Linked DNA regions of Homo sapiens: region 1 is linked to region 2. The links come from fine-mapping of genetic effects on gene expression. A gene starts in region 2. The other region holds a variant in brackets. All regions are shown on one strand. Distances are between the middles of the regions.

What was found. PIP is the estimated chance that this variant, and not a neighbour inherited with it, causes the effect. A credible set is the group of variants that fine-mapping cannot tell apart.
Region 1: its variant is the best candidate, but not a certain one, in a credible set for the expression of VIPR2 in whole blood (TOPMed, PIP 0.72).

Annotation. Positions count from the first base shown.
Region 1 is chr7:159,055,641-159,058,548 of GRCh38, reverse strand. It overlaps VIPR2 (vasoactive intestinal peptide receptor 2), which reads left to right. Exons shown (of 13, transcript NM_003382.5): 5 at 1-68. Among named protein-coding and RNA genes, the nearest start is that of LINC00689, 49 kb to the right of the region's middle. RefSeq lists an enhancer at 1-572. The variant CTTATAT/T (reference allele first, on the strand shown) is at 1,264.
Region 2 is chr7:159,143,303-159,146,210 of GRCh38, reverse strand. It overlaps VIPR2 (vasoactive intestinal peptide receptor 2), which reads left to right and starts at 1,344. Exons shown (of 13, transcript NM_003382.5): 1 at 1,344-1,490. The coding sequence starts at 1,440.

The sequences.
Region 1 (2,908 bases), 88 kb after region 2:
TATACACTGGGCTACAGTGTCTCTCTGATGTCTCTTGCAACAGGAAGCATAATTCTGTGCCTCTTCAGGTAAGGAGCAGAAATTAGTAATTCTGCAAAGAATACAAGACAAGCAAAGTTTCCATTTAGGCCTTCTAGGCGCCACCCAGCCTGGAGCCCTCTGTGTGCTAAGCCAATAAGACTCCCATGGAGAATGCTGCCATTAAATATGATGTTAACATTTACATTTTTATTTAAATACTCTGCATTTATTATGTAAAGAGATAATGCTGACCTTGGATAGGAACTCAGCTCAGCTATCATTTATTAAATACTTAGCCATTATGCAAATGCGTGGAAAATACAGAAAAAATAGGATCTCACCCTTGCCATCCAGAAGCTCCTGTGTTTTGGCTGTAGGTGCTCTATTAGAGAGATGCTACGACGTGTTTAAGAGCATGAAGGTGGAGTCAGGCTGTCTGGGTTCAAATCCTGGGTCAGTCTCTTAGCAGCTGTGTGACCTTGGACAAAGTACTTAACTTGTCTGTGCTTCTGTAATGTGTGGAGACTAAGAAGCCCCCTTCAGAGGGCTGTTGTGAGAACTTGATGTGTCGGTAGATGTGAAGGGCTTAGCATGGCACGTGAGGTTGTGATGAGGGCTTATTAAATGCTGCCCACTCTTCCCTGGCAGTGAGGTGAGATGGCCCCTGCACACCTGCATCTTTAGTGGGTCTCTTGGTAACTAATGATGACATAGTGCAGATGATTTGACCAATCAAATCATTGTTCATTTGGGTTGGGGGTAGAGGTTTTGGTCCCAGAACGGCAGTTTCTCTATAGGAAGAGCTCTGGTGAATTAGGATTAAATCTGTCTTACGTATCATTAGCACTAAATAAAATGGAGGCTATTCAGCTTATTCTATGTATCAATCACTACATATTTTATTTCTCTTTGCTAAAATGTAATCGAAATGTTTGCCAGTATGTCAGATAAAAATCAATGATAAATGGAATATTTCTAGACCCTAACAACAGTCCATTAGGAGATCCATACTTGGAAGTGTAAAATAAACAAGTTAGGAGTGGTTGAGAATCCAGCTAAGAAAGCCAGCAAATGTAATTGAGCTATGCTTTTTATTGTTCAGGCATCTCAACTATGGTTGGTAATTCTCAGAAAGAATAAGTCTACCTTTGATACAGGGCTGCACTTTGAAAAGTGAGGAAGGCCTATCATATTCTAGTTATTTTTAAAATCTGGTACAATATTAATATTTGTTCTATTATA[CTTATAT/T]TTTATAGAGTATAATTTACTATATATGTTTACTATTTTACTGTATATGTTTAAATTTTTAAGTTGCTAAAGAGAAAGAGGAAAACTTTAAGGAAGTAAGCTGACCCAGGGAAATTGAATCTGAAAATTTTATCTTATTTTCCTATATTGAACAATCCCTATTTTTTACACACATCTGTTTCCTTCACATATGTACAGCATGACATATTTAATTAGGCAACCCAAGAGCATCAGGAATTATCCCGCCTATGAACACTGATCCTTTAGGGCACAGAACACACCCCTCCATCTGTAGGCATCATTCGTCACCTGCCTGTGGCACTTCTGAGCTGAAAAAAGTGCATGTCTGTGTTGGATGTCATTCTGCTGGTGACCACATAGTGTCCAGAGCTGGTGTGCAGCTCTAGGCTTGGGGCTCATCCCACGTCCTTCTGTCAGAAGCAGGGTCCAGTGCCACTTCCTGAGAGCTGTGAGAGTCTGTCAATTCTAAAGTCCGAATTATAAAAATAACGTGCTCCATTGTCTCAGTAATTATACCCAGGAAGCAGAATGCTTTGCGGGCATTGAACATTTCTTCTCCAAAATAGCCCAATAAGCCAAGAAAGCCTTCAGTAGCCATGTTCTTATTTTATACACGGGAAATGGAGCTACTTACTTCTTAGAACACATCCCAAAGTGTGCAGTGTTGACGCTCACAACAAATACAGGACCAGCTTTGTAGGGGAGTCATCCTATGGTGACAGCTGCCCCTGTGACCCAGGGACTGACAGAGACGGTTCCAGTCCATGCCAGTCCAGCAGGGTCCACAGCACGGTTGCTCCTCAGACAACACGGGTTTGAACTGCATGGTCCACTTCTCTGAGAATGTTTTTCAATACAGTCAGCCCTCTGTATTGATGGATACCACAGATCAGAAGTATGGCCTATTCTCAGGATGAGAAGCCTGCAGATACAGAGGACCAGCTTCATATATCCACGGGTCCTGAAGGGGCAAATGTGGGACTTGCACATTCATGGACTTTGGCATGGGGTAAGGGGGGCAAGATTGGGGGAGGGGGATTGGACCCAATCCCCTGTGGATACCAAGGGACAGCTGTAACTGCTAATATGCACCGTGTCAAGTACTTTACAGATGTTAACATCATCAGGTAAGTACTGCCACTGACCCAGTTTCTCCAGGTGGAGAGTGCAGCCCCAGGAAGGTCGCTGGACATTGCAGGGTTGCTGAGCTGGTGCACGCAGAGCCCTGATTTCAACCCAGGCTCTCATCACTGCAGCCTGCACCTCTGTCACTGTCAGATGGACGTGGCCTCCAAAATCCTTTCCCACCATTGCTAATGAGCAGACTCTGGTCCCCCTTTCCGGAAGCCACACTTTCTACTACCTCCATTGCCCATTGGCAGATCCATACGTGGAAGTGAAAATTTAAAACGAGCAGTGAGTAATGAAGAATATCACTGAGAAACCCAGCAAACATGTATTTGGATGGCTTGCTAACTGGACCAAAAGCATGCTCATCTCTGAGCAATGGCTGTAAGTGCCAACCCCACTCCACAGAAACACAGGGGGTGGAAGAGAGAGGGAAGGAGAAAAAATAAGAGAGGGAAAAAGGTGATTTGGAGAGATGAATGCAGCCAAG
Region 2 (2,908 bases):
AGATGAAAGGTAGATGATGGACAGGTAGATGATAGATGACAGATAATAGATGACAGATTACAGATAGATGATCGATAGGAAGATGATAGATGATAGGTACATGACAGATCGATAGATGATACGTAGATGATGGATAGGTAGATGATAGATAATGTGGATGATAAACATCAGATGATAGAAAAATCGATATCTGTGAATACGGGGGGTGGGGGATCAGAGAGAAGCAAATGATAAGCCCAATGAGGTAAATGTTAATGACCGAATCCACAAAAAGGATAAAAAGGAGTTATTTGTAATATTCTTATTCTTCTAATTTTTGTGTAAGTTTGAAATTATTTCCAAATAAAAAATTAAAACAACACGAACTTAACTTGTATCTCTCATTCCAGTGCTTTCCACTTGCTGGGGAACGCCGAGCTCTCCTGGGTTGGTCACGCGGGCGCCTTGGGAGGCCGCGCAGTCCCGCGTGGGGCGCGGCGGGGCGGCCCCAGTGGCACCGCGTGAGTCCCCGCCCAGCGTTCCCCACCCGCCGCCGCGTTTGCGGGGAGAGAATGACCCCCGTTTTGCAAACGCAGGACACAAAACCCGCCACCCAGCTGAGGCTGGGACCCACCTATACCCCCGTCTGCGTTTTTCTCCAGCTTTCTGTTCGACCTGATGTCCTCTTTGAGGCTGCGGGGATCCCCACCAAAAAGCACTCTGATTTTCTCCATTTTCAGATGCCCCAACCTAGCCCCACTGGCTACAAAGACGGCGCGCCCACCCCGGACGGGTCTCTGGCCGCTTTCTTGGGCTTCCGCAGTTGTTTAGAAAGGCAGGTACAGGCGGCCGCAAAGGCATCCGCCCCTTCCGAGCGCACACCTGGCCCGGTCCTCCTCTCCCGGCCCCGCGCCGGCCGCTCTCCCCCAGTTCTCTCTACTCGGAGCCGGGCGCGCACTGAGCACCCCGCTTCCCAGCCCCTCCGCCCACAGATCGGGGAGGCGCGGCCGGGAGGGGGGCGTGGGCCAGGGAAGAGGGGAGGAGAACGGAGAGAGAGGCTGGGGGGGTCGAGGAGACCAGAGGGAGCGCGCGCGGCGGGGACAGAGAGCCCAGGGGCGAGGAGAGGGCGCGGGGCGCAGCGGAAGGGGAAGTGGGGGGCGGTGAGGAGGGGCGCGGAGCGGGGGTTCTCGGGGGAGGAGGGAGACGAGGATTGGGGCAGCGCGGGGCGGGGACAGGGGCGGGGGGCGGAGCGGCGGGGCGCGTGGGGGACGGGCGTGCATTGAGCGCGCTCCAGCTGCCGGGACGGAGGGGGCGGCCCCCGCGCTCGGGCGCTCGGCTACAGCTGCGGGGCCCGAGGTCTCCGCGCACTCGCTCCCGGCCCATGCTGGAGGCGGCGGAACCGCGGGGACCTAGGACGGAGGCGGCGGGCGCTGGGCGGCCCCCGGCACGCTGAGCTCGGGATGCGGACGCTGCTGCCTCCCGCGCTGCTGACCTGCTGGCTGCTCGCCCCCGTGAGTGCGCCCGCGACCCCCGCCCCACGGCGCCTCGGACCCGGTTCTCCCCTTCCGAGAAGAGCGCTCCTCCCGCCGGTCTTCGCCTTCCTCCCGGGTGCTGGAGCGCGGGCGGGGTCCGGGAGAGGGAGCGGGGTCGCCCGGGGTCCGGAGCTTCCTCCCGGAGAGCGTGAAGCGCTGAGCTCCGGTCCCGCCGGGTTGCGGGACTCGGGTTGGGAGGCTGCCTGCGCCCTTCCCCGCGCCCCACCGTCCGGGGTTTGCTGGAAACGGGATCGTTTCTTCCTGGACGCGTCAACGATGAGCTCGTTCGGGGCCGTCCCGGGAGCTGGGAGCTGCGGGCGCCTGCGCGGGCTGCGCGTTTCACGGGGAGATCGGGGTTGGCGTTGGCCGCAGATGCCTCTCGGTCCCTCCCTGTACTTACTGGTTAGTTTTAGTGTCGGGGGGACGTGGCGTCGGTTAAATAAAGTTTCCTTTTGGAAATAGTTGCTTTTTCCCAAGGGCACTGGAGGAACTAACTGCTCATAAGTTTGTTGATTAAGTGCCTTCGCACATGGAGTTCTGAATTATTCCCTCTGTGAACCTTAAAAAAAAAGGAAAGAAAAAAGAAAGAAAAAAACCCGAGCCTTGTTTCTTGCTTTCCTCTTGGAGACTGAAGCGGGTTTGCGGTGCGCGCGGTTTTCGTGCGCGTCGCAGCCGAGGCAGGTCTGGATCGATCCGCGGCCCCTCCGCAGCTGGGAGGCTGCGCTGCTGACCCGACAGTGTCATTGATTAACCGGCGACGCCCGGTCTGCAGCGGGGCTCGAGCCACACTCCCTGGCCTTGCGCGGAGGCGCAGCTCGGCTTTCCTCCCTCGAGGGTGGGCGCTTTGCGGAGCGGGTCCTTGGAAAGTAACGGGTTTTATCACGGTTAATGCTGCTTTCATTGCTAAAATGTCCTAAAAGAAGTCATTGCTGTGCATATTCCAGGAACGTCAGGTATTATTAATGTCTTTTACACTTTAACAAAGTTTTTCTTTTTACATCAATATAATTTCCTTAATTCTGAAATTTAAGCCACTTACTTGTCCTGCATGAAAACAGAGGACTTGGAGCCCAAAGTCAGTGCCTGGTGCTGGTTCAGTCACGAGCAAGAAGCAAGCTCGGGGCTCTTTTAAATGGGGCTGAAGGTGGCAGAAGTTCCAGCATTGTTTTCCCCTTAATTCTGTTAGGATATTGTGTTCCTGGTTGGAACTCTCATTGACCATTTCAATAGTAAGATAACTAAACATAGATGGCCATAGTACGCCCAACAGTATGATTCTCTTTAGTTACTACTTTAGTACAAGTAGAATTTTGGTCGGTGGTGGGGGAGGGGGAAGATCAAGACCAAAAGGATGGGTGGGGGGAGCCCTCCTTAAGCCCCCAAGGGCCGCTTGGCAG